Regions from separate parts of the Homo sapiens genome. Here regions 1, 3 and 4 are each reported to be linked to region 2. Evidence: microRNA targets listed by miRTarBase, many of them from high-throughput screens and not tested one by one. Region 2 holds a microRNA gene; each other region holds the end of a gene's coding sequence.

Evidence for each region. Region 2 holds the annotated microRNA hsa-miR-8070 (AUGUGAUUGACGGCUGACUCCA, at 3,668-3,689, opposite strand). A microRNA usually pairs through its seed, bases 2 to 8, with sites in the 3' UTR of a target mRNA and lowers its output. Matches are read on the target gene's strand: a 7mer-m8 pairs with bases 2 to 8, a 7mer-A1 pairs with bases 2 to 7 and ends in A, and an 8mer does both.
Region 1: the mRNA of KRABD3 is a reported target of hsa-miR-8070. The part of its 3' UTR that is shown has no 7-base or 8-base seed match.
Region 3: the mRNA of INTS2 is a reported target of hsa-miR-8070. Seed matches in the 3' UTR shown: 7mer-m8 at 5,109-5,115 and 7mer-m8 at 4,252-4,258.
Region 4: the mRNA of HCCS is a reported target of hsa-miR-8070. Seed matches in the 3' UTR shown: 7mer-m8 at 6,601-6,607.

The regions. Positions count from the first base shown.
Region 1 is chr7:149,733,099-149,740,220 of GRCh38, reverse strand. KRABD3 (KRAB domain containing 3) reads right to left here. Exons shown (of 17, transcript NM_001290187.2): 17 at 5,646-7,015. The coding sequence ends at 6,174. It overlaps LOC124901771 (a long non-coding RNA gene), which reads left to right. Exons shown (of 2, transcript XR_007060585.1): 2 at 209-347. Among named protein-coding and RNA genes, the nearest start is that of KRABD3, 22 kb to the right of the region's middle. RefSeq lists an enhancer at 4,244-5,160.
Region 2 is chr11:11,779,524-11,786,645 of GRCh38, forward strand. It overlaps MIR8070 (microRNA 8070), which reads right to left and starts at 3,699; the gene lies at 3,612-3,699.
Region 3 is chr17:61,861,309-61,868,410 of GRCh38, forward strand. INTS2 (integrator complex subunit 2) reads right to left here. Exons shown (of 25, transcript NM_001351695.2): 24 at 6,525-6,701; 25 at 4,059-6,418. The coding sequence ends at 6,249. It overlaps BRIP1 (BRCA1 interacting DNA helicase 1), which reads right to left and starts at 2,220. Exons shown (of 20, transcript NM_032043.3): 1 at 1,976-2,220; 2 at 139-261. The coding sequence starts at 231.
Region 4 is chrX:11,121,405-11,128,526 of GRCh38, reverse strand. It overlaps HCCS (holocytochrome c synthase), which reads right to left. Exons shown (of 7, transcript NM_005333.5): 7 at 5,441-6,915. The coding sequence ends at 6,717. Among named protein-coding and RNA genes, the nearest start is that of HCCS, 14 kb to the right of the region's middle.

The sequences.
Region 1 (7,122 bases), not on the chromosome of region 2:
TAACACTTCAATATGTCACCATTAAGCATATTAGCTATTGATATGGTTTGGCTGTGTCCCCACCCAAATCTCATCTTGAATTGTAGCTCCCATAATCCCCACATTATGGAAGGGACTCAGTTGGAGGTAACTGAATCATGGGGGTGGGTTTTTCCCTTGCTTTTCTCATGATAGTGAATAAGTCTCATGAGATCTGATGGTTTTACAGAGGGCAGTTCCCCTACAGTCTCTTGCCTGCCACCATGTAAGACATGCCTTTGTTCCTTCTTCACCTTCCGCCATGATTGTGAGGCCTCCTCAGCCACGTGGAACTGTGAGTCCATTAAACCTCTTTTCTTTATAAATTACTCAGTCTTGGGTCTGTCTTTATTAGCACCATGAAAATAGGCTAATACAGCTATCATCTTTTTTTTGGTATATAATCCTCATCAAATTAAGAAATTTCCTTTCTCATCCCAGTTCACTTGGAATATTGATGGGTGCTGGCTCTTATCAAGTGATCTTTCTGCAGCTATTGAGATGATCATGTGACTTTTCCCCTTTAATCTATTATTGTGGGTTACCACTGGTGATTTTCAAACGTTGAAACCATTCTTGATCGACAAGATGAAGCCAACTGGGTAATGATGTTTTACTCAGTAAAACATTTTGTGTATTGCTAGATTCTCTTTGGCTAATATTTTGTTGAGTATTTTTCCTATGTACATTTTTTGAGATTAGCCTGTAATTTTGTTCTCTTGTACTGTCCTCAAGTTTTGGAAATTTCAAGATTATGCCAGTCTCGTAAAACGAGTCAGAGAGTGTCCCATATTTTTCCATTCTCTGGAATAGTTTGTATATTATTGAAATAATTTCCTTTTTAAATGTGAGATAGAACTTACTAGTGAGGCCTTTTGGGCCTACAGTTTCTTTTCTTTTTTCTTTTTTAGATGGAGTTTTCTCTTGTTGCCCAGGCTGGAGTGCAGGGACGTGATCTTGGCTCACTGCAACCTCCACCTCCCGGGTTCAAGTGGTTATCCTGCCTCAGCCTCCCAGGTAGCTGGGATTACAGGCGTACGCCACCACACCTGGCTAATTTTTTGTATTTTTTAGTAGAGACAGGGTTTCATCATGTTGCCCAGGACGGTCTTGAACTTCTGACCTCAGGCCATCTGCCTGCCTTGGCCTCCCAAAGTGCTGGGATTACAGGCCTGAGCCACAGTACCTGGCCCTACAGTTTCTTTTGTAAGATGTTTGATCACTAATGCATTTTTTTTTCAATGGTATGGGACTATTCAGGTTTTGTTTTGTTTTGTTTTTGAGTCTAAGTTGCATTCTTATGGGAGTTATTTTCATTGAATTTTCAAACTTTTGGCAAAAAGTTGCTTATAATATCATCTTATTGTCTTTCTATAGCCTGCGGCATCTGCAGTAATGTCACCTTTTTCATTCTGAGACTGGTTATTTGTGCTTTCTTTTTTCATTGATGATTTCATCACAGGCTAGTAGTCAATGTTATTAGCTTTGTAAAGAAATGATTTTTGGCTTTGTTGATTATATCATTTATATGTATGCTATTTCAGTAATTTCTGCTCTTATATTTGTGTGCCCTTTTTAACTTTTCTTTGGATTTCCTTTGCTGTTCTGTTTCTCCTTGTGAATTCTGTCCTTCCTTTTCCACATACTCACTTATGTCTATACATTTCTAAGTACTGATATTGCTTTATGCTACACATTTTGATATGGTTCCTTTCCTTTCCTCTCCTCTCCTTCCTTCCTTGTTTTCTTTTTTTTGAGACGGGGTTTCACTCTGTCACCCAGGCTGGAGTGCAGTGGCACGATCTCGGCTCACTGCAACCTCCACCTCCTAGGCTCAAGTGATTCTCCCACCTCAGCCTCCTGTGTAGCTGTGACTAAAGGCACATGCCACCACACCTGGCTAATTTTTGTCTGTGTGTGTGTGTGTGTGTGTGTTTGTGTGTATGTGTATGTATGTGTATATATATATATATATATATATATATATATATTTTTTTTTTTTTTTTTTTTAAGTAGAGATGGGGTTTTACCATGTTGCCCGGGCTAGTCTCGAACTCCTGGACTCAAGTGATCTGCCTGCCTCAGCCTCCCAAAGTTTTGGGACAACAGCCGTGAGCCACCACACCTGGCCTGTGGTACTTCCTTCATGGTGGGAAACATTTTTAATTTCCATTATGATTTCTTCATTGACACATGGGTTATTTTAGCAGCATAATTCTCATTTTTGAATATATAAGAATTTCTGGTTATTATTTAATTCTAGCTTAAAAGGTAAAAGTATTGTCAGAGAACATACCCTATATAATTTCAATATTTTAAATTTATTTACACTTACTGTAGGGCTTAATATATGGTCAATTTTTGTAAATGTCCTGTGTATGCTTGAAGAGAATGTATATTAAGCAGTCCCATGGCACACAGTTTTTGTTTGCTTGTTTGAGATGGAGTTTCACTCTTTACACAGGCTGCAGTGCAGTTGCATGATCTCAGCTCACTGCAACCTCTGCCTCCCGGGTTCAAGCGATTCTCGTGTCTCAGCCTCCCAAGTAGCTGGGATTACAGGTGCATGCTACCATGCCCAGCTAATTTTTGTATTTTTTGTAGAGACAGAGTTTCACTGTGTTGGCCAGGCTGGTCTGGAACTCCTGGCCTCAAGTGATCCATCCGCCTCGGCCTCCCAAAGTGCTGGGATTACATGTGTGAGCCACCGCACCCGGCCCCATGGTGTACTGTCCTATACGGGCCTCAATCAGGCCAATTTTGTTAAGGAGTTTGTTCGAATCTTCTACATCCCTCCCAATTTGTTCCATCATTTTCAGAGAAAGATATGCTAAAACCTCCCAAATATGATTGTGAATTTGGGTGTTTCTCCTTTTAGTTCTTTACATTTTGAGGCCAGCAGAGGAAAAAATGGATTTTTTTTTTAACCCACAACAGTGTTAATACAAAATAAGGCAGGGAAGAGAAGCCCCCTCGGAAGAGGTGGGACAAACAAAAAGCACAAAGTAAGAAAGTCTGTTAAAGCCTCAATAAATCAGTCAGTCAATTACATTTAAATGGATTAAGGGCTCCCAGTTGACGAGCAAAATCTGTCAAGATGGTTTATGAGATAAAATCCATAGGTTGTGCATAGGAGCCACATCCAAAACACAAACCCGCACAAAGGTTAACAGCATGCCTGCTGCTCTTGACCAAGCACCTTCAGCGGGGAGCAGTGAATCGTGGTTCTTGCACCCCGCAGGCCAGCCTCCCTTCCATCAGGACCCCTGGGGGTGGCCAGAAAATAATAGGGGCACGAGGAGCCCATTCATTCATATTTTGAAGCGGAACCTTCACATGTTCCTGCCTGCTGGGGGACTCTGGCTGGCAGACTGGGAAGGTCGCACTCAGATCAGCCAGGACCCGTTCGGCTCACCCAGGATGGAATGAGCAGCCTGGAGCCTTCTCTGCCCCCAATTCCAAACCCTGGAGCTCCTTTGAGTTCAAAAAGGTCCTTCAGTTTCTCCCATCAAAGGGACCACATTTCCTCTTCCAAGCCACACTGCACAGTTCTTAAAGGAGATGGGCACAGTGCCAAAGACCTAAACTGCATCTAGATTTTCCACTAGATCAATTCTAGAAGGCGTTTCAGTGACTGTGGACAGGTCCTGGAGACCTAGACCTAGGGAACTGCTTCTGCAGGAGGAACGCAGCTGCAGACCATGGAACTTCTTACCACTTATTACTTAGAATCCACATTCTTAAAACAACTTTAAACTTATTATATGGTCCAACTGGGTCTGGACCACCTAGACCAGGCTCAGTCCTGAATACCCTGGTCTGTCCCAGCAGGCAAAGGCTGGGAGGGGGCATCTGTGCCCAGGGTGAGGATGCGCCGAGTGCTGGCGGCACTGGTGAGGGCTCGAGCTCTCTTCCTAGCTCTGCTGGTTGAAGGCTGCCTAACTGTGACAGTCACTTACAGCCACCATGCTCATTTGTTCAGTCGTGCCTGTCAACTAGGGTTTGCGTGGTGGCTGTTTCGGAAGCCAGCAAAGCAAAACCACCTTAATGTGCCACACAGAAGTGTAAGGTGACCCCCCCTCCCATTGAGTCGACAGCCCAGTGACCCCTGCTTAGAAGGGAAAGGAGAATGGGAGGACAGGCAGGCACGATGGGACTGCACCAGCTGCAGCAGGGGTGGGCAAGAGTCCTCTCCTCACAGCCAGAGTCAGGGCAGGGGCAGTTTCGCTTCTCAACCCCCCTCTGAAACTGTGTCCCACCCCTTGCCGTGGCTCTGAAACGTGCCCGGCACTGCTCCCTGCTTATTAGAAGGAGAGCTCCTCAGGCAGGAGCAACCTAGAAACTTTCCCTTCCTGATTCTGTGCAAGCACGGCTGTGAGCGAACAGCCTCCGTATTTCAACAAACATCCTACTTGTATGGTCTTAGGATCTGTTTCCAGACAGTCACCTCGGGGCTCACTCTAGTCCTGAAAGCATCTTCCCATCCCTTTGTGATGTTCAGTCTGTTGCGGGCATTCCCCTCTGACAGGTGTCCTTGCCCTGCTGCTTCTACAGGGTGGCAAAGAGCAAGGGCTTCAGCTCCCAAGCTCAGCTGCAGGGCACTTAGGCCCCGAGTGTGTCCCCAGTGACCCTGACTTGAGGGACACACTGGGCGCTGCAGCCACAAGGCACTGCTCCTGTAGTCATGGTGGGCAGCCAGCATTGCCCCAGGCCACAGTGCTGGTGTCCCAGGCTCCTCAGGGACCTGAGGACAGGGCCAAGTGTGCCAGTCCACACCAGGCTGGCCCTGCCAGTCCACACCAGGCTGGCCCTGCCAGTCAACAGGTGCACATACAGGTCCTGAAACCACCTCAGGTCAAATAAGGGATTTGGGGGCACACAGGTTGCATTCTGCCTCTTGGGAAGATGATGCAAGGGAATGACAGGCAGGCTGGTTCCAACGCATTGCCAAGCGCCAGCTGAGCGGGCTGGGAGCAGGCACATTCCGGTAACCAGGACAGAAGTGGGCTAGTGATACCTGGTCATGTCTTTTCCCAAGACAAAACCAGGAAGACTGGCCCAGCCCGTTTGGTGTGTTACAGGCTGAACTGTGCCCCTCCCCAAATGTGTATGGTGAAGGCCTAACCTCCAGTACCTCCAAATGTGACCTCACTTGGAGAGGGGGTGTTTAGAGAGGTAATCAGGTTAAAATGAAGTCATTAGGGTGGGTCATAACCCCATACAACTGCTGCCCTGATATGAAGGGGAAATCTGGAGACAGCTGTGTAGAAAACACCATCTGAACAGGAAGACAGCCATCTACAGGTCAAGGGGAGAGGTCCGGGACCGATCCTCCCTCCCAGCCCAAAGCAGGAACTGAACCTGACACCTGGATTGTAGACTTCTGGCCTCCAGGACAGAGACAATATGTGCTGCTGTTGAAGCTGCCCAGGCAGGGTTCCTCTGTGAGGCAGCCCCAGGGGACTCAGAGTGTGCCCCAGGAGTCCTGTGGGAATTGCCCCACCCTTCCTGGCACACTCCTGAATGTTCTCGAGGATGTCTGGGAGACGAGGCAGCGTGCTGGTGGCACAACCAGCCCCGCCCCAGCGTGGGCCCACATGGACCTCCCTTCTATAGGAGTCAGGGCCTTCCTTAGCAACTCACTTCTTTAATTTCAGAATCCACAGAGGTAAGTCCAGCTTAGACCAGGGGGCTGAGTTCTCTCAAATGAAATCTGTGCCAATATTTACTCCAGGAAGGCAAGAGCCCAGCCCTTCAAGGCTCCTGAGATCAGGAACGGCTGGTGGTTAGGAGGCGCTCTCCTGGCCGCTCTAGCTGTGTGGGGCACCCCCTGCATATGTGGGGCACACGTGGCCTATGCACACCACCCACCTACAAGCTTGGGCGGCTCCAGTGGGAAAGACAGGAGAGGGAAGCAACATTTGATTGAATCTGAGCCAAGAGGGCCAGAGGCTGAGGAAGGCACCCCCACAGCAGCCTCCTGAGCAAACAGCACCTGGGGGCTCTACCCAGTTGGGACAAAGGGCGAGGCTCCCAGCAACAGTAAGGGAGATGGCGTCCTCTGGGAGAGGGTGGCCTGGGGTGGGGTGACAGGGCTTCCACGCCACCACTGCACCCTCGGCAAGAACGAGCAGATGTGGAGAAGAGGAATGCCATCAATGCGCCCCCCATCTCGGGTCCCTGTGCTCCCCACCCCACAGTTCTTCCTGGAGGGCCCTCTGCACTCCTCCCAGCAGGCTGCTCGGCTCCTTGGGCCGCTCTGGGATCCCGTCTGGTGCCACTCCTGAGGTCGGCACGTCTGCATCTGCACTGGCTGCAGGAGGAGAGGCTCCCTGCAGGGGTAAGGCAGCAGGCACTAAAGGGGGAAGGGGGCTCTGGTGGCCCCCGGTATGTGCGAGGAGGGGGTGTGCAGGCGGCGCAGCATGGCAGCTGGGTGTAGAGGACAGCAGCTGCTGGGAAGAGCTGCAGTGGAGCCCAGGAGGTTCTGCCGGGGGAGCGTCTGGAGGCAGCGGACGTGCCCGGCGAGCGGTCCCTCTGGAGAGTCCTTGCAGGTCACCAGCCCTGCAGCTCTCTCCCTGGCCACGCAGGATCTTTGGTTTAGGCCTCGTGGGTCCCTTCTGCCTCCAGTAGGGCAGATGTCTGTGACCAGGGCCATGAGCCCAGCGAGGTCCCCGTGGGAGGGTCCACATCCAGGAAGCTTGGCCCATTGGCCCAGGGCCTTGGGGGCGCCTCCCCAGCCGATTCACCTGGGTCCTCATGGTGGCCACTTCCTGAGCCAGGCCTGCCAGCGCTGTGGCGAGCCGATCCAGCTTCTCCGCAAGGGCAGCACCGAGGCTGTGCAGCTCCTGCTGCAGGGGCTTCCCACAGTGGCATGGCGGCTGCAGGGAGGAGGCTGGCAACACAGGAGGCGCAGCTTCCGGAGGGGGCAGCTCCGGAGGGGGAGACTCACTGGGCAGCTCAGGCGGGCCCTGGGGGAGCAGCCTCTCATGGGTCTTGGCTAAAACCAGAGCAAGGACCGGTCAGAGTTCCTGGTTTGTAAGGACCTTTCTCTCCCCAGAGGTCCCATGAACCAAGGGCGCTCAGTACTCTGCCTCCTCCAAGGCC
Region 2 (7,122 bases):
TATTCAGATAAGGGGAAGGGAGGGTGAAGGAATTCAGAGAAAAAAGCTGCCACTAGGCAGGAAAGCGTTCACAGAAAAATATGCATAAATAAGGGGCAAAGACAAGGAATTAACATACTATGAACATCGTGCTCTCATATTTAACTTCATCCTTATGCCTCAAACATTTAGAGAGTGCCTACTATGTGCCAGATACAACATCAGGTGATTTTACGTATATTATCTGTTAATCCTCACAACTATATATGAGGTAGGGATTATTCTTCTCATTTCATGAATGAGAACTGAAGCTCAGAAAGGGTAAATAACTTTCCCAGAACACACAGCTAGTAAATGGCTGAGCCAGAATGAAAACCCAGGTCTCTCTGACTCCGAAGACTACATTCTTTCTATACCACAGTGTCCATAAAAAGCTACTAAGACAAAGTGGATGAACCTCAAAAACATTATGCTAAGTAGAAGAAGCCAGGCACAAAACGTCATGTATTGTATGATTCTATTTATATGAAATATCCAGAGTAGGTAAATCCATAGAGACAGAAAGCAGACCAGTGTTTGCCAGGGACCTGGGAAAGCGGTGAAAGGCAAATGACTGCTTAATGGGTACAGTTTCCTTTGAGGGTGATAAAAATGACTTGGAACTAGACAGAGATGATGGTTGCACAACTACTGAATTACTAAATGCCACTGAATTGTACACTTTAAATGGTTAACTGTTAATTTTATGTTATGCAAATTTTACCTGTATTTTTAAAAGCTATTAGAAAGGAGAGTTTGAGGAGACAAAACCAGGGAAATGGAACACTCATCATATTTGGGGAACAATGAGGAGACTGAGCCAAGTGGAGCAGCACGAAGAGCCAACATTTTCTTCTCAGCTCAGATGAAGAATTTGGGTAAAAGTGTGAGTAACTTTCCTTAGTTTAGAGTGAGAGAATTCCCAGGCACAGACACCTGCCTTCCTTAATCACAGAAAGAGCTGCCCTAGCTGGTCCAAAATGCCTCTGGTTGCATTTTGGTGTTAGGAGGGGTGAACGCCACCTCTCCTGTGGGTCTCCTAAATTCAGCAGACACAGTATTCTGCTTGAGCATTCCCAAGTGATTCCTCAATCTACGAAATGTGGTTATTTCTTGGTTACTGAGGGGCAACTCTAAATCTCTGTAAACCTGAAATACGTGGAATCATCTCTTTACTAATGAGGGTGCGCAACCGGCCATCCTGCATCTTATCTCCTGTGGGCTGGCTTTGATCTTGGCATTGAGGGTGCAGCAACTCTCAGGAAGGGTCTCAGGAGCCACTTGAGATATTTGATTGTCTTTACTGCCTCTTATGTGAGATGTAATAGGCACTAAAGCAACTCATGTGGATGGGAACTTCCGCAGGCCAAGGCACACCCCCAGTCAAGGGTCTGCCATCCAAGCTGCAGCAAGCCTGGCACAGACCTACCTCAGAGCATCACTTTCCTTCCAAGCTCTTTGGGAAATGTTTGCCTTCACTCCACACGCTCCTCTCAGATGTACACGCACCATTGACGGTGGCTTCTATTTACTCAGAGTTTCACTGTGCAAACGAATCTTTTCAAAGCCCTGCAGCCTTTCTGGCAGCAAGAAGGAGGCAGCATATGTGAGTGGGCTCTACTGCTTTCCCTCCCTTCCCCAGTGCCTGGGACGTGGCTGCCCTGGTCGGCCTGTAGCGCAGTTTCCTCCATAGAATAGGCTCTGCTCCTGGAAGGTGTCTACTGAGTGGGTCTGGGATACAAGAACTAGCCTCTTCAGCTGCCCGCTCATGCCCATTATTGGGGTAATGGTAGTGCCCAGAAAGGGTGCTTCCCACAGACCAGTTCAGAGTTTTGCATGGTGTCAACTATGATGCTGAAAGTCACATTCTGTGTAGGATCCAGTAAGAATTCTACAAGGTGTCCTGTGCAGTGGTGCACATAGGATTCCATCCAGTGCCTAATGCATTATCCACTCAAGTGCTCTATGCAGTGACCACCCTCAGCCCAGGGAGTTATAAGGTAGTGCTGCCTGGGCAATGACCAGTGAGATGACCTCAGCCATCCCAAACATACAATCTGGCCAAGAGTTCTATGCCATGCTCAGCTCAATTCCCCACAGAGTGCTCCAAGCTAAGCCCAGCATGAGGTCTGACACTGTGCTGAATATAATTCCTAGTGCCCAATGAGTGCCCACTGGATGCCCTTCAAGGTGGCCAATGAATGGACTTCACACCCCAGTGAGTGACACACCTGGGAAGTTCTCTCTTGCCCAAACCCCCCCTGCTAGGGAGAAGTAGGACCACCCCTCTGACCTCCTGATAAATCTCAACCTCACTGCCAGCCTCTCCACAGGCTCTTGGTGTCTTTAAAAAGCCACACAATATTATTTTATCTAAACAAGCAACTTGCTCTAAACCTGAAGCCAACCAAGAAAACATAAAACCCGAATACTAACATAACAAAGTTTTATTTTGAGATTCTTTTTTACATCTTTTAAAAGCAAGGTGTAGTACATGCTTATTATAACACAAAACATGACAAGCAAATAGTACAGGAACCTATTACATAGAAAGTGAAATTCCCTGTTTCCTTTCCTCTCTCTCCCATCTCCCATCAATCCCTCTTTCTAGAATTAACTACCATTTATTTGGTTTGCATCCTTTTGGGTCTGTTCCATGCATTACTCAGACATTTACATTACATGCATTTAACTCTTTTTTATACATATGAGCTGATACTGATGCATTCTTCTGAAACCTGCTTTTTTCATTTAATATAATGTGATAATGTGGTCACCTCTCCATGTCTATGCATACGTATTTACTTCCTCACCTTTAGTTAATGCATATTATTCCATAGTACAAAGGTACTTCCAGTTTTTTAACCAGTCCTCTGTTGATGGCATTTAGACCATTTCCACTTTTTCACTGCCACAAACAACATTGCAATTACCATCTTTTATGTACTGATAATTCTGCAAAATCACCCTCTGAAAAGATTGTAACAATTTACACTTCTTCATGATGAGCACAGTAGAAATCTTTCCCTTGCTTCTGGAAAGCCATTAATCGACTCCACTTTAAGAAATGCAGGAGGCAGAAGGTTGCCAACGCAAGCTGCATGTCCCTTCTGTCTATTCAGAATGGAACTGCCTGTTCTCACTGGGCTTGGGTGTGGTCCCTTTGTCTTGCAATATGCAAGCTGGAGCCCAGTCCTTGGCATGCTCTCCCAGCTGCCAGGTGTGAGGACCTGCCCTCAGTGCACAGGAGGCAGGCTCAGCTTACATGGTGATAAGGTCTCATTCACAGAGAAGCAGGCTTCACTCACATGGGATCAGGCTTCACCCACATGGAACCAGGCTTCACACACATGGAATCAGGCTTCATTCACATGGTAATCAGGCTTCACTCATATGGGATCAGGCTTCACTCACATGGAACCAGGCTTCACCCACATGGAACCAGTCTTCATTCACATGGTAATCAGGCTTCATCATGTGGGATCAGCCTTCATTCACATGGGATCAGCCTTCATTCACATGATGATCAGGCTTCACTCACATGGAGTCAGCCGTCAATCACATGGGATCAGGTTTCACTCACATGGAATCAGGCTTCACTCACATGATGATCAGGCTTCACTCACATGATGATCAGGCTTCACTCACATGGAGTCAGCCGTCAATCACATGGGATCAAGTTTCACTCACATGGAATCAGGCTTCACTCACATGATGATCAGGCTTCACTCACATGATGATCAGGCTTCACTCACATGGAATCAGGCCTCAGTCACATGGGAACCACTGTAGGATCAGGTTTCACCCACATGGGGTCAGGCGTGGCTCACATGGTGATCAGAGTTTGCAGTGTTTCTGCTTCTGCTGCCCCATGACTATCTCGAGAGATCCCTTGAGTGATGCAGGGATCCCTAAATGAGCACAGAGCCATTGGTCATCCCTAATTTCCATAGAACAGTCTTTCTGTCTATCTGACAGGCTCTAGGTCCCTGGCTTTCCCTTTAGTTCCCCACTTGGACTGGAGCCCAACTGACCAGGGCTCCGCCCTCTTCTCTTTGCTCCCTCCAGCTCAGCACCAGCCTTGGTGCCAGCACCCCCACTGACAATGATGGTGAGATTCTTGAGATTCATGCCACTCTCTCACTCCTCTACCTTCTGTTCTGGACTGGGTCAGAACTACCTCATTCTCCAGAATTGGGGATTTGGACAACTGAGCAGTCCCGCTTTTATCATAGCTGCCCAAGCATCTCTCTGCCAGCCTGTGCTTCCCACCTCGTGCAGTGCCAGGAACCAGGATGTCTCATGGCTGGCTTTATCTCACATTTCACTCATTCATTCAACAAATCTTTATGATATGCCACTGTACACCATGCACATTTTCTACCAAACTGTAAATGTCCTAAAATAACTACATACGTATCAAGTTCTGTGTTTCTTTTGTAATATGGATGGCAAGTTATTGAAATTTTATGAATTCATTACTATAAACCGGATACAGTTCAGTCCTCTTTCTGGAATAAATGCACTTCTAGACAGTTACCACTATAGCACTCTATCCCATCCCACTGATTGTATAATAAAAGTCAACATGTATTAAGTACTCTTCAAGTTTGGTCCAAGAGGCATACATGTGTTCGTTTAAATCCCCACCAGAACAACCCTATAAGTACCATTGTTATCACCATTTTACAGGTGATGATCTGAAGTTAAATGAGTCACCTGAGTTCACACAGACTGGAAGGAACAGAGCCAGGATCCAAATCCAGACATTTGACATCAGGGCTTACACTCTTTTTTTTTTTTTTTTTTTTTGAGATGGAGTCTCGCTCTGTCACCAGGCTGAAGTGCAGTGGTGCAATCTCGGCTCACTGCAACCTCCGCCTCCTGGGTTCAAGTGATTCTCCTGCCTCAGCCTCCTGAGTAGCTAGGACTACAGGCACCCACCACCATGCCTGGCTAATTTTTGTATTTTTAGTAGAAACTAGGTTTCACCGTGTTGGCCAGGATGGTCTCGATCTCTTGACCTCAGGTGATCCACCTGCCTTGGCCTCCCAAAGTGCTGGGATTACAGGCGTGAGCCACTGTGCCACTGCGGCCTCCCACACTGTTCATTGTTATGGCATTCTGCACCTCCATAGTGGTTCTCTACATGAGTTCCGTGGGCAGAAAACCAAAAAACTCATCAGGGGCAGCTTTGGGAAAGCCTGAAAGATAAAAGGGACAGAACCTAAAATGAGAGCAACAGTTCTGAGCTGTGACCAGTGAGATACCTTGGCGGGCTCAGTGATCTGCAGATGGCAGGGCAGGGCATTTTGTCCAGCATTTTCCAGTGATGCCATGTGGTAGATCCTCAGAGGCCACTGCAGAGGCATGGAGATTTCAGCTTCATCCTGCTGCCAAGAGTCCTACTGATGAGCAGTGGCCATCCAGACTTACTATTCCTTCAACTCCAGTCATCTCTAAGCTTGTCTGCATGGGGGCTACTAAGAGCTCACTGTGAGAACGAAGGTCAAGGACTCTGGGGTCAAAGTGTCTGGACCTATTCACCTCCTGGCTGTACCACTTCATAGATGTGAGATAAGTTACTAAACATATCTGTGCCTCAATTTTCTCAGGTATAAAATGGGGACAATAATAGTATCTTTCTCAGAGAGTTGTTGTGAGAGTTTATCTAATGAAATGTGTATAAAGTACTGAAAACGTCAATAAATACTATTTTTATGACTTCCCAAGGGCCTGCTGACCACTCTGGAACAGTTGAGGCAGTGAACATAGAGCCATGACCACAGACTTGCTAGGTGTTACAAGTTACTTAGTAGGTGTTACAAGGCACATCCAGAACAGGGGAAGGTGGCAACAGAATGGCATGAAAATAACTATATTAGTTTTCTAGGGCTGCTGAAACAAAGTCCAAAAACTGAGTGGTTTAAACCAGGGGTCCCCAACCCCCAGGCAACAGACCAGTACCACTCTAAGTTACATGCTCCTTATAAGAATCTAGGCCGGGTATGGTGGCTCACACCTATAATCTCAGCACTTTGGGGGGCAGAGGCAGGGGGATCACGAGGTCAGGAAATCGAGACCATCCTGGCCAACATGGTGAAACCCCATCTCTACTGAAAATACAAAATTTAGCTGGGCGTGGTGGTGCATGCCTGTAATCCCAGCTACTCGGGAGGCTGAAGCAGGAGAATCTCTTGAACCCGGGAGGCGGAGGTTGCGGTGAGCCAAGATCACGCCACTGTACTCCAGCCTCAGCGACAGAGTAAGACTCTGTCTCCCAAAAAAAAAAGAATCTAATGCCTGATGATCTGTCCCTGTCTCCTATCACCCTCAGATGGGACCACCTAGTTGCAGGAAAACAAGCTCAGGGCTCCCACTGATTCTACCTTATGGTGAGTTGTATAATTATATCATTATATATTAAACGTGATAATAATAGAAATAAAGTGCATAATAAATGTAATGTGCTTGAATCATCTTGAAACCATTCCCCTGCAACCCCCCAACCCTGGTGAAAAAATTATCTTTCATAAAACCAGCCCGTGGTGCCAAAGAGGTTGGGGACTGCTGGTTTAAACAACAGAAATTCATTGTCCATGGTTTGGAGGCTGAAAGTCTAACATTAGGGTATCAGTAGGTGAGTTCCTTTTCAGGGCTGTGCAGAAGGATCTGTTCTAGGCCTGTGTCCTTGGCACGGATGGCACCTTCTCCCTATGTCTCTCCACATTGTCTTCTCTTCACGCATGTCTCTGTGTCCAAATTTCTCCTTTTTATAAAAACACCAGTCATATTGGATTAGGCTCCACCAGAATGACCTCATTTTAACTTGATTACCTCTATAAAGATCCTATCTCCAAATAAAGTCACTCTCTAAGTAGGGCACTGGGGATGAGGACTTCAACATACGAATTGTCAGGTGATGCAATTCAACCCACAACAATGACTAATGAAAATTGTTACCATTCATTAGGCAGCTAACACATGTCAAGGATATAACTATGACTTTTTAGCACCCACAGCATATCTTCGGGTTATCTACTAAGAAAGTGGAGGTTCAGAGCATTTAAGTGACTTTCGAAGATTATTATACAGTTAGCAACT
Region 3 (7,102 bases), not on the chromosome of region 2:
GGTTAGATATTCTTCCAAGTGAACCCAGAAAATATTCTCCATTTACTGAGAATATGAATGCAGTCAAATACTCAATGTACTTTATGGGTCATAAGTATCTATATCTTAATAAAAACTTAACTGCTGAAAAATACTTACAGAATTCATCATAGCAAGCTGTGACGGGTAAGCTTTATAAGGAAAGTAAATCTTCACCCCACCAATTGTATATTCAGACCACATTGAAGACATAGTGCTTTCCTGTTTATTTCAGATTCCTAACTACAACAGAAATGAAAATGTCAAATATTGAGACACGCCTTACAAAGAAAACCAGAGAACCAAAACTAAGGGAGAAATCTGGAAACAGAAACTGGAATTAATAAAAGTATAAACAAAACAAATGGAAACAAAATAATTTCCTAGTCTTATAAATCACAGCGGTCAAGAGCATGTCTTAGAGTCTAACAAATCTAGATTTGTATCCTTCACTCTGCCAGGTATTAGTTGTGTGACTTCGGGAAAGTTAGTTACCTTCTCTAAGCCACAGTGACTGCATGTACCCCATAGGATTGTGGTAATGATTAAGTGAAATAATGTGCAAATATGATAAAGTACATACCAGATTAAACATGAGCTCTTGTAACAGTTAGATCAGATGTAATCAACCTACAGAAACAAATAAGTTCCTGAGGCCTCTCTCTCTACAACTCCGTAGCATCACTCTTTCTCCAGTTCTTCCCCTTTGTGTTACCCCTTTCTGCAGTCCTCCAGTTAGAAGAAAAAAGCTGTTGACCAGAAGTCAGGAAGCATAGGTTCTATACCAGGTTTTGGTATACTGCCTGGTATGTTATCTTTGACTCAGGTATGTTATCTTTGACATATCTTTTTACTTCTCTAGTCTAAGATCCTTACCTGTGATAACCCCTAATTTAATTTAAAGGCTGTTATAAGAAAGAGAATGCCTTGGCACATAGTAGGCACTCAAAAATGTTATTTGAAGATCAGTAGAGTATTATAGAAACAGGATGGGCTTTGGAGTAAGGCAATCCTAAGTTTGAATTCCACTGTGTGAATCACTTAACTTCTCAGAGCTTGTTTCTCCATATATGGAATTGAAATACTACTACTTACCTGACAGGGTTTTTATGAAAATTAGCCAGGGCAGAATGTACCTAACCCAGGATCTGATACAGATGAGGATCACTTTAATCCTCACCTCTTCTAAACCACTTTTCTTAACCTAGGATCCACGGATGTAATTCAGAGACAATGACCTCTTGAAATTGCAAGCATAAGTTTCTGTACATGATTGCATTTTTCTGAAGAAAAAGTCCATAGATTTCTCTTCCCGTAAATATATCTCAAGGAAATCAAAATAGCGGGGGAAATTACATGCACTGTTATTAAATAAGGAATTATTTGCAGTCGTGGGAAAAAATTGTAAATTCAACCTGGGGACGAAGAGATGGTTAAAATAGCAATTCAATAGATTATGAAGCCAATAATAACATTCACCACTGCTTGTGTGCTCCAAAAGAAGAACCATTATTCTAGGGTATTTTCCAGCTCTAACATTTTGCGATTCTATCTGTAAAGCTCTGAGAATGAGGTATGGTGGAATCTAACCTCTTAATATGAATCAACAACTCAACGCTGGCCTAGTTACTCAGATATAATCTAGAAATCAGCCCGTCCTGTACCCCGGCTGTGGCAACAATAGTGTCAAAATGGGGTAGCTTCCCCCAAACATTGCATAAAGGATAAACACACCCCTCTGCCTCCCGCCAAGAATTAACGCAGCGCCCGGGCTAAGAACAGGCCTGCGCTCAAAGGAGGTAAGGATAGGCTCCCTCCTCAGGTTTTCTGCCCCGTATCTCCCTCCTCCCCCAGCCAGTTGAGATCCCCGAGACCCTGGTGATCCAGTCACCACCCATGGGCCCGCAGGCTGTGCAGAAGAACTCAAGCCCTTTCCGTGGACTTCCCTCCGACTTGCCTGTCTGGAGGGAAACCGAAGCAACGCTCTGAGCTCCGATTCACTGAAGAAAAGGAAAGGAAACCGACTTCTGAGAGCAAATAAAGCGGAGCCCTGGAAGAGAAGAAAGGGCACGAGCCCTTCCTCCTCCCTCTTCCTGGGGGTGCTGCTACTTCCCCGGCCTTGTGTGCAGGACTGGGGCCGCCGTTACCTTTCCTCGACCCACCAGACCCCTCAACCACACAACCCGAGACGAATTCCCGCCTCCCGCCCCCTCGACTCCCAGCGCCCAATAGCCCAGCGAGCTCGACCAATCACCCGCCAAGGCCAGGAATCAACCAGTCCCGGTGCGAGGTGAGGGGGCGAGAACTTCGGCATCCAATGGAAGTCTCCGAAAAAAAAAAAAAAAAACAAGGGCTCAAGGTACGCGGCGGAAGGTTGTCGCCACTCCAGCAAATCCCTAGTGTTTGTTTAAAGTAGAAAGTCGTCTCAGTTTGACTTTTGAAACCGGCGATAGAGTCTATGCAGCAAATTCCTTGGAAACTGGAAGTCTCATTCTTCACGTCCGTAGACCAGCGGAAAGGAAGTATCTTTAAGCTTTGCCAAGTTCTTTGAGCATTTATCAGTGCCACTCAATTTAAATTACCCAGCTTTGCAGTAGCCAGGATAGCGAAGACTCAGGCGGGAATTGCCAGACTGCTGAGCCAAACTTAAGTAAGAAGGCTCTGTGACATCGGGCTACAATCTATCTTTCATAATATTCAAGGCTTTCCCGGATGCTAAAATAAGCCAGAGACAAGCTCTCAGGGTCTCCAGTATCAGATCACTTCTACTTCCATTAAGGCTTATCCGCCTTCCATCCCTCCTAAGACCAGTTTATTATTTGCCAGTAGTACTTTAATTTACTCAAAGAAAAGGAGGTTCATCATGATCTTGCCAAATCATGTTATTTTTTTAAAAAATCTGTATAACCTAAACTTGGCTCAAATAATAATGTCTCCAAAAGGCAAAACCTCATACTGTTTCTCAAATTCAAGTAACTAGTTTGGGGAAGGAGTTTGCTGGGAAGAAAGAGCAGGAGGGGGCTAGTTGATTTGTTTGCCTCATTGTCAATTGTGATATATCTTACCAAAAATGACAAAACTTGTAGTCATAAAAATAAACTCTACCCTTTGACCTAGTAATCTGAGCTCCAGATATTTATCCTAAAGACGTAATCTAAACGAAAGAAAATGTGATACCGCAATTGACAATAATATCTATTGGTAATACTGAAAAAAATTATGAACTTCCCAGTCTAGTAATATGGAGGTGGTTATGACAGATGAATTCAATACATTATGAAGCCAATAAACTTATAAAAATTAAACTTGCAAGAAAAAATCCCATATAAGGTTAAGTGAAAAAAGGCAAAGCAAACCCCAAACTGGGTGTTAGGGATTCAGTAATGTGAAAATACATATGAATGAGCAAAGATGAAGTAATTTACTGTTAAGACAATGAAAGGAAGGATAATGTTTAAAAATAAATCCTTAAAAATACCTTCAAATTGTCATTTCTCTTTTATAATTTTTAAAACATCAACTCTTGGCCGGGCGCAGTGGCTCACGCCTGTAATCCCAGCACTTTGGGAGGCCGAGGCAGGCGGATCACCAGGTCAGGAGACCAAGACCATCCTGGCTAACACGGTGAAACCCCGTCTCTACTAAAAATACAAAAAATTAGCCGGGCGTGGTGGCGGGCGCCTGTAGTCCCAGCTACTCGGGAGACTGAGGCAGGAGAATGGCGTGAACCCAGGAGGCGGAGCTTGCAGTGAGCCGAGATGGCGCCACTGCACTCCAGCCTGGGAGACAGAGCGAGACTCCGTCTCAAAAAAAAAAAAAATCAACTCTTTTGAGTAACTGCTCTAGTATAACTACTCTCATTTTCCTCTCCTAAATTACTAAGAGTTTCAACTGGCTCTCACCTTGCATTGCCATTTAATGTATGTGGCATAACAGAAAGGGATACACGTAGGCCCTGGAGCCATACAGACCTCGAATACAGTCCCTTGAACCGTTCCCTTCAGGTTAACTCTAGTGGAATGAAACACAAAAACTACAGGTTCGTTTGATAAAGAATATGAATGTTTATAAACCAATATTCAAAATAGCTGCACACATCTGTTTTCACTTGAATAAAAAAACACATTGTGACAAATTTTATAACCTTAACTTAAAATACATGAATATTAACATTTACTAATATATTTACACATTTTATTTACATCATCAACAAATCTGATGAAAAAGAGCATATGTGATTATTTTAACACAGCAGGTTATGACCAGTCTTTGAATATTGATCCAGGAATGTGCACTGCATTTAATTAGAAAACATACTTTTAACTTTTTCTGAACTCCTAGGGCATATCTATTCACACAAAATATCGCAAGGCCTCAGTTTAAAAAAAAAAGGAGCAGTTGTATTTAATCTTAAGGGACTACAAAACTGCCTTGTTTAAAAATATGAAAATTCTTATGCTATTTTTAAGATACTTTTATTACTTTTATTTTTCACATCAAAATTACTTAATTGAACATTAAGCATCTAATAAAAAGTTATAAATATTCTATCACATGTGATACTATGCACTTCATGATTTGAAACAGCTACAAACTCATTCTCATAGAATATGAGGTAGGGCCAGTAGTAACCCCATTTTACAAAGGAAGAAAATGAGATGTGACTATTTACTAGTGAAAAGGCTAAAGTTAAATTTCATTTCTCAAAAACTACACCTTCTTATTAGCCTAATTTCTTTTACAAGTGAAGCGGTCTGGCCAGGTGCGGTGGCTCACACCTGTAATCCCAGCACTTTGGGAGGCCAAGGTGGGCAGATCACCTGAGGCCAGGAGTTCAAAACCAGTCTGGGCAACATGGCAAACCCCCGTCTTTACTAAAAATACAAAAATACAGGTGGCGCGTGCCTGCAGTCCCAGCTACTCAGGAGGTTGAGGCACGAGAATCCCTTGAACCCAGGTGGCAGAAGTTGCAGTGAGCCAAGATCATCCCACTGCACTCCAGCCTGGGCAACAGGGGAAGACTCCACCTCAGGAAAAAAAAAAAAAAAACACAAGTGAAGAGGTCTGTTTCAAGTGGGGGTGGGGAAGTGTGTGATTGAGGTATATCTCAGAGAGAAAAAAGGGAATTACTTTCTACATTGATAATTTTTTTTTAATGATTAGGGTTTACCTGAATATGTCTGCCTAATCAATGGAAGTTACTGACAGAGGACTGCAAAATCCTTCGGCAAGACAATATTTTCTACACTTTAACTTTTCCTCAGGTTCAAACACTGCATTTTCTTACTCAAAGATCTTCTCAAAGTAAGATATGAATTATAATCCTGATGACAAACCAAGAGCTCTTTAATCCAGTGGGTTTTATTGCTCTACCTTCATTTAATTTGATACATATTTCCCCCCTCTGAGCATTAGGTAAGTTAATAAAGCATTATAAAAATAAATTTAAAACATAAAACTAAATGAGATCTCTCAGGTTCTTCTTTGAACAAAGATGTTTCTGTAAACACTTTTACACCAGTATCTTAAAATTCCAAATTATTCAAGTATCTCTTTAAACATATGGCTTCATATATTAATAAAAATTGAAGCAAATATGTGAAATCTTTAAATCCTCATCTGTATTTCCACAGAAATCATTTACAAAAGCTACTTGCCTTTTTAAAAGTCTTCTCAATACTCTTTCTTGAGAACTAGAATTCCAACTTGCATTACTATTACTTGCACTGCAAATCTTTGAGATTTCTACTTGTGTTTTTAACTCCTATTATTTCCTTAATTCTCCTTTCCCTTTACCCTTTTTTCCTCTCCCATCTTTGCATCTTTGTCACATTCTGTTACAAGCTCACAGTTAAAATAAACACTAGGGCTACCCACAGACTCATTTTTATAAGAAATTAAAGGCATGGCAGTCTTCACTTCAAAAGCTAAATACAAGGCCAAATTCCCTTTCCAATAATGAGTTTCTTACATGTGTTCCCAGTGGAAAAAAAAAAAGCTCAGCTGCTACAATAGAAACATATCAGCAAAGTAGATCCAAAGATGTGCCAATCAGAAACAAGCAAGCATAATTCTCATAAAGTTCTAAACTATACTCATGTTGAATTGAATTGTTTTAGTGATTCCAAGACAATACTTTACTGTTCCCATTCAGTTTAGAGTTGTTACTAATATGCAGATTCATGTTGGGTATATGCAGCAAACAACTTTTTGTTGTTTTAAATTTTGTTTTAAATTCCACTAACACTCATATTTATTATTTCAATTACTGTTCTTTCAATACAGTGACAGAGCTGTACATCAGGATCCATGCTTCCAGTGTCCCTGGATCCATTTTTATAAGATGAATCTTTACAGATTTGAGACCATCCACTTGGTTTCTCCTTTATTTGTTGAAGACCTACAACATAAGGGAAAAAAAACATTAAGGCCAAGAAATTTGGAAAGGAATTTGGCCTTTTTGTTTGAGATATTAAGATAACCCTTGAAAATAAGTTACCACTTACGTGTAATAATTGGATCAATGTCTCTTGTCTGAGTGGCAACATCAGAGGCACAAACTTGCCCTATTTGGATCAGCAAAGACATAATATCCTCATACAATGGAGGAAATGCTCGACAAAAAGAGACCAAACTTGGCAGAGTTGGCATAAAAAAAGCATACCGCTTAGCCTGTGTTAAAACTGTTGGAAAAAAATGAAACAATATTTTAGTTTACAAATATAAATTCAACACAGCTTACACAACATACTAAGGGGAACTATGCTCTGTGCTGGAGATATGAAGTTCTCTAAACACAGCCAACCCGTCTTCAGAAAGCTCACAATCTAGTAGTCTCAGTCTTTATCCAAGATACAAATTATTATGCACAAGTTTTGCAATAAGTACATTACATGCATTATTTCATTGAATTCCTACAATCTTATGAATGACCAAAGTACTATTATGACACTCATTTTATATATGAGAAAACTCTTAAAAAAAGGTTAGAGAGGTTAAGAAACTTGTTAAAGATCACAAGCCAGTTAGTGGTGGGGCTGAGATTGAATTCAGGCAGTGTAAACTCTTAATCACTACAAATAAT
Region 4 (7,122 bases), not on the chromosome of region 2:
TCCACCAGCCCTGACAACCACGAATCTGCTTTCTGCCCCTATAAATTTGCCTATTCTGAGGGTTTCAAATAAATGGAATCATACGAAAGTGGCCTTTTGTTTCTGGCCTCTTTGAGCACAATGTTTTTAGGGTTCATCCATATTGTAGCATTTATCAGTACTTCATTTATTTTTATGGGTGAATAATATTCCATTGCATGGATATACCAACATGTATTTATCCATTTACTAATTGGTGAATGTTTGAATTGTTTCCAAGCCAGCACATTTTATAGAGGGAAAGGAAAGCACTGGTTAACTTGGAATTCGCTTAAGTGTAGGTCTTTTAAGAGTGTGTCTACTGATGTAGTTTATATAAAAACTAGTTTGAAATAGGGTTTCAAACCACATTGTTTTCCCTTAACTTAAAGATTCTCAACCTGAAAGATGACATAATTCAGCCCATTGTAATATGAGGCCACAAACATTTTGGTATGAAAGGAGCCTTTAAGATAATTTCAGGAAATTGAGACTTACAGGCCTAAGGTGGCTTGTCCCAAATCTCCCAGCTTAACACAGGGAATCAGTGCAGAAACAAAGCTCTCAAATCTTGTTTTATGCCATTACGTTAGCTACCACCTCCAGATTTAAAACCCTGGCATAAGAAAAGGGCTCAGGCTGGGCTTGGTGGCCTAAGCCTATAATCTCAGCACTTTGGGAAGCTGAGGCAGGCAGATCACTTGAGTTCAGGAGTTCAAGACCAGCCTGGGCAACATGGTGAAATGCTGTCTCTACAAAAAATACAAAAATTAGCTGGGCGTGGTGGCATGTGCCTGTGGTCCCAGCTACTAAGTAGGCTGAGATGGGAAGATCACTTGAACCTGGGAGGTAGAGGCTGCAGTGAGTCAAGATCGCACCACTGCACTCCAGACTGGGCACTACAGTGAGGCTCTGTCTCAGAAAAAAATTTTTAAAAAGGTTCAGATGAAGGAAAAAGACCTTAATGAAATGATGTCTAAGAATGGGATTTTAAATCAGCAGTGAAGGAATCCTCTTGTGGTCACTACATGTCCTCCTGATGATTTGTCTGAGCTAATCTAAGCATGAAGCACGCACAGGAACATAAAATGGGAGGGGTGGTAGGACACAGGCCCAGTGCTGAATTGGCCCAATTAGACTGAAGAGAAACCTTATTTCCCATGGTTGTGGTAGATGGCCGGGTCCCACCCCACCTCATATCTACTGACCATAAACAAGGATCTCAAAGCAACTAGGAAGCATTGACGCTGATGAAAGGAACCAGCCCTACATGGATGAAGTTAAAATTGAACATGGAAGGAAAGGGAGTCCAGAGAAGCAGGATCAACCAAGTGTACACCCAACCTCTGCACTTCTGGCTGTGAGTTCAAGCAGGGATTCACTTACTAGAAGCCAAAAGCATCCTGATAATATTCTATAGCAAACCATTGAAGGGGCACGGGAATTAGTCACATTGTTATCCCAAATGTAGAAGGAATAGCAAAGTGTTTAAATGATGATTCTGCACAGAGCTCCAAAATAGTAACTTTCAAAATAGTAACTTTTCATTGTTCTTTAGGACTTCACTCGTCTATGATTGTGAAGACTTGTCTCACAATTCCTCTGTTACAACACTCAAGATGTATTATTTCTGTGCCCCTATCACATATGACCTTTGGTGTGTAAAAGCATCAATGAAAAGCTAATTATAAATACAAGATAGCACCCATATGTACATGCCTCATTCCCTAAACCAGTCTTAGGAACTATGTTTGCTCCTGCATCTGGTATGATTCCACAAAAACATTAGAATACTTGCAATGTGATGTATAAACCTCCGGTTGAATCATTTGCAGAAAGTGTTGTCAGCTTTTTCTTCCAAACTAGAGAGTGCACAAGCATGAAATAGACACTTTACCACTTACACCAATGGCATGAAATTTTACTGAAGGTACAGTGACAATCTCTACTGCAGCAGTAAATGTTTTTCTTTTTAAAGTTCAGAGGCACATGTGCACACTTGTTACATAGGTAAACTTGTGTCATGGGGGTTTGTTGTACAGATTATTTTGTCACCCAGGTATGAAGCCTAGTACCCATTAGCTGTTTTTCCTAAGCCACTCCCTCCTCCCACCCTCCACCCTCCAATAGGCCCCAGTGTGTGCTGTTCCCCTCTGTGTTCTTATCATTTAGCTCCCACTTATAAATGAAAACGTGATATTATTTGTCATGAGTGGCGCAAGGCATAATTCATATGCTTCATTTTGATATACTATATACCCCCCAAATTATATAATTTTTTAAATGTTACCTTAAGTTACAAGGAATATACATGGCTTTTGAAATAATTTTTGATCTTTTTCTTTGCAGTAAACAACCTTGTAATATGTTTTGAATCCGGATATGTAATATATTTTCACAGAGGGGGATAACCTTGTGACCCAAAGGACATTACAGTGAGCTATATTTTAGATTAAGAAGCACAAGAATCGCAGCACTTTGGGAGGCCGAGGTGGGTGGATCACTTGAGGTCAGAAGTTCAAGACCAGCCTGACCAACATGGTGAAACCCCATCTCTACTAAAAATACAAAAAAATTCGCTGAGTGTGGTGGTAGGCACCTGTAATCCCAGCTTCTCAGGAGGCTGAGGCACAAGAATCACTTGAACCCAGGAGGTAGAGGTTGCATTGAGCCGAGATCATGCCAGTGCACTCCAGCTTGGGTATCTGTCTTAATATAATATTTCTTTTTGTCAAGTGGGACTTGCATATCAAGTACCTAATTTGTTACCCTGATATTTTTTGAAAGATCAAAGGCTGTAACCTGTTCTTTTTCCATTTGATGATTTTAAATAACATGAGCTTTCTTAGAGCAAGCACCCAAACACCTGGTAATCCTTAAAATTGATCAAAATGGGGATTAGAGCCTGCTGTTACCCCTCTAAACTGATTCTCCTGGTGGCGGAGTGGGGCGGGGAATAAGGCCAGAGGATGAGAGAAGTAGATTATATCTCAGCACTTTGATTTCTCTCCTTGCTGTTGTTGATCAATGGTGATAGCTAATATTTGCTGAACATTTCCACCCACAGACTCTGTTCCCAGCGCTTTTAGGCATCACCTCAAAGTACCTGCAAAACAACTCTGATAAGTTGGTTCTATTACTCTCATTTCATAGCCGAGAAAGCTGAGGCCCAGAGACATTAAGATCACACAGCGACTAAAGGGCAGGGCAAGGACTCTGCCTCCAGGACACACATTTGTAATCATCACACACACAGCCTCAAGCCTATGGTGACACAAATGACGGGTCATACAATTCTGACAGTCACTGCAAAGGTGAGACAGGAAATGTGCATTGCTTCATTTTCCCTAAGAAGCAATCTCTGGGAGAAGATAAACCATAATGATGACTCAGTAAAGAAATTGGTAACTATCTCTAAATATTCAAAAATACTTACGTGAATTCTCACACTGTGTGTTACCACAATGTGTTCCTTAAATTGGAGTTCTAGCATTTACCACCATTTCATTTATAGACTGTCCATAAGATTGTTGAGTTCCCTGCAAGTAGGGGTATTAGTCTGTTCCCATGCTGCTAATAAGGACATGCCCAAGACTGGGTAATTTATAAAGGAAAGAAGCTTAATGGACTCACAGTTCCACATGGCTGGGGAGGCCTCACAATCATGGTGAAAGGCGAAGGAAGAGCAAAGGGATGTCTTACGTGGCAGCAGGCAAAAGAAGTTGTGCGGGGAACTCCCATTTAAAGAACCATCAGATCTCCTGAGACTTATTCACTACCAGGAGAACAGTATAGGGGAAACTGCCCCCATGATTTAATTATCTCCACCTTGCCCTGCCCTTGACACGTGGGGATTATTAAAATTCAAGGTGAGATTTGGGTGGGGCCACAGCCAAACCATATCAGGGTTATACCTTTTGCAATTTTGTATTCCTTATACGATGCACAAAGGGGACATAAACATTTTGTTAGCCAGTGACTGACAGGAATACTAAATGTTAATATGCAATCCATTTGTAGCCCCAGCTTGTCTGCCAATACTTAGCCTGATGTTCAGTAATTTGTTCTGATTCTGAATAGTGCTATTTCCACAGACACAAGACTTAGTTTAAAACTCCAGAGAATATCCTAAATGAGTTTCAAGCTGTACACGAAAACTCCTATCAGTATTGACCCCTGGACCCAATCAAGCATAATCTAGACACAAAGCAGCTCTGACAATCCAGGAAGCCATGGTTTTTTCTGGAAGTAGTAAAACGATGTATAAAACTTGATCTTGTCATCAAGTTTGCTTGAGTTTAAAGCTTGTTTACCACAGTCCTATAAAACAGGTGAATCCTGCCTTTGGCATATTTTTTGTTTCCAGTTAGTGTTTTGTCTTTCATAAGAATGTCTTATCCCACACTCATTCGATAGCACTTAAGACCCCCCCAAAAAATGCCAACAGTAATTATTTTCCTCTACAGTTTAAAAATATGTGATTAGGGCTGGGTGCGGTGGCTCACGCCTGTAATCCCAGCACTTTGGGAGGTCAAGGCGGGTGGATCATGAGGTCAGGCGTTCAAGACCAGCCTGACCAACATGGTGAAGCCCCGTCTCTACTAAAAATACAAAAATTAGCCAGGCGTGGTGGCATGCACCTGTAATCCCAGCTACTCGGGAGGCTGAGGCAGGAGAATCGCTTGAACTCGGGAGGTGGAGGTTGCAGTGAGCTGAGATTGTGCCACTGAACTTCAGTCTGGGTGACAGAGCGTGACTCCCATTTCAAAAAAAAAAAAAAGATTAGTAGATGAAAAAGTGGCTGCTTGGAGTAGGGAGACTATAGCATTGTTTTTTTTAAAAAAAAATTATTATACTTTAAGTTCTGGGGTACATATGCAGAACGTGCACTTTTGTTACATAGGTATACACATGCCATGCTGGTTTGCTGCAGCCATCAACCCGTCATCTATATTAGGTATTTCTCCTAATGCTATCCCTCCACTAGCCTCCTCCCCACCCCCCCCAACCCCCCCCACCCCCCCCCGGCCCCGAGACGGGCCCCAGTGATGTTCCCTTCCCTGTGTCCATGTATTCTCATTGTTCAACCCCCACTCTTGAGAACATGCGGTGTTTGGTTTTCTGTTCTTGTGATAGTTTGCTGAGAATTATAGTTTCCAGCTTCATCCATGTCCCTGCAAAGGACATGAACTCATCCTTTTTTGTGGCTGCATAGTATTCTGTAGTATATATGTGCCACATTTTCTTTATCTAGTCTATCATTGATGGGCATTTGGGTTGGTTCCAAGTCTTTGCTATTGTGAACAGTGCTGCAATAAACATATGTGTGCTGGGTTATAAATCATTCTATCATAAAGCATTGGTTTTATAAAGATAATACGTCTGAAGAAACAATCGTTAAGTGTAAAATTATTCCAAAAAATTTTCAAAACCTGTGAACTAATCAGCTTTATTTTAAAATATACAAGTATTTTGAAATGTAGAGTTTAAGGCTGTTCTATTTCTTAAACTCCACACAAAACTGACAAATCCATACCAAATTAATCACCCACAGACTGCCAATTTCATCCACTAATTTAACACTACAGCATTCAGGATAAATTAAAGGATTTAATAGTATAGACAGTTAAAAAAAAAAAGCAGTCATTTGTAACATGCTGCTATAAATAGAACAACCAGTTTATGGATTACTGGTACAAAAAGTTTCAATGGCAAACTTAGAGCTTCCTTAAAACAAACAAAAAAAATCTAGACTGAGTTGAAGCGTTCTCCATCTGGGAAAAAAATGCTCATCTTGTGAATTTTAACACTCAGCCAAATATAAAATCATGTTTTAGAGGGGGACCATCACTGATACTGGGACTTAAGCCAGGCTTTCAAGGTTTGGATTAGGCCGACTGATGTGGGGAAGGGTGGAGGCTGCCAGCAAAGGAAGAAATGAGATTCGAAGTTGGGATAACTTGTCAAATGCCAAGGACAATGAGGAGACCTGTTTGTTGGGAGCAGAGTTACATATTAGAATAACAGGATTTAAAGGGAACATTTTTTAAAAGGTATGTTCCAAAGGAAGGTATAGTTGAAAGTACTCTATCCAGTCCAAGAAATTCATATAAATCAGAATTTGGAGAGAATTTTGCTGAGTACCTTTCCAGTGTATACCTTTGCATTTTGTTAAAGGTCACAATCATACCATAGGGGCTTTAGAAATAATGGTAACTTTTTTTAAAAAAGGTATAATCACCTCTTATTTATAATGAACAGCTTTAGTTAAAATATTTGGCCAGATGAAAGCTCTTGAGCATCACCATGGACTCTCAGGCTTTACATCTCTGGAGTATTCCTGAGAAAATAGTAAGAAAAAAAAGCAACTTTCATCACTTTTTAAAAGCTCTTTTTCAGAGGTTGTTCAGGCTTTTCGAGATGAAATATACAGACAATACTGCAGGTAAAGGAAAAACTGAGAGACTGCTTCCCACTTAAGCTAAGTAGGAAGAAAACAAAATGATCTGCTATAAACTGCAAGGTACAACACAAGTCAAAAGTGAACAGTGCATAGTATCCTTCGTTAAGTGAAGGAAAAAGTGTGATTACCCACTTGAAGTTCCCATTACATCATGAGTGCAATTCAATCTGGGGAAAATAGTTTAATGTATCGCTCAGAAAAAAATAGTTTATATTTTTCCATCTGAAACAGTGCTTTACGAGGTCCAACGCCACCAAGCGACTTTCATTCTGTCCCATACTGCCGAAAGTGAATCTAAGGCAGGACGGACGTCCAGGATGGTGAACTGGTAGTCCTTGTTGACTTCACCACCATCATAATAATCAATCACATATCTAACTTCTGTCCCGCAACGGTTTATGATCCAATCGTGCCTATCAAAAGGCAACTCATACCTGGAATAAAAACATGCCACTGAGTGTTAAAATGCTTGCAATACATTCAGTCCCGGTTTAAGCCATGAGAAAACTCAAGAAGCACATGCAAACACCTGCTCCCAAACACCTAACTGGGGAAGTCAGACTTGAAGAATTACACAGTGAACAGCACTAAGGGAAGATGGCACTGAAGAACTGTGATAAGTCCGTATCAGATGACAGCTC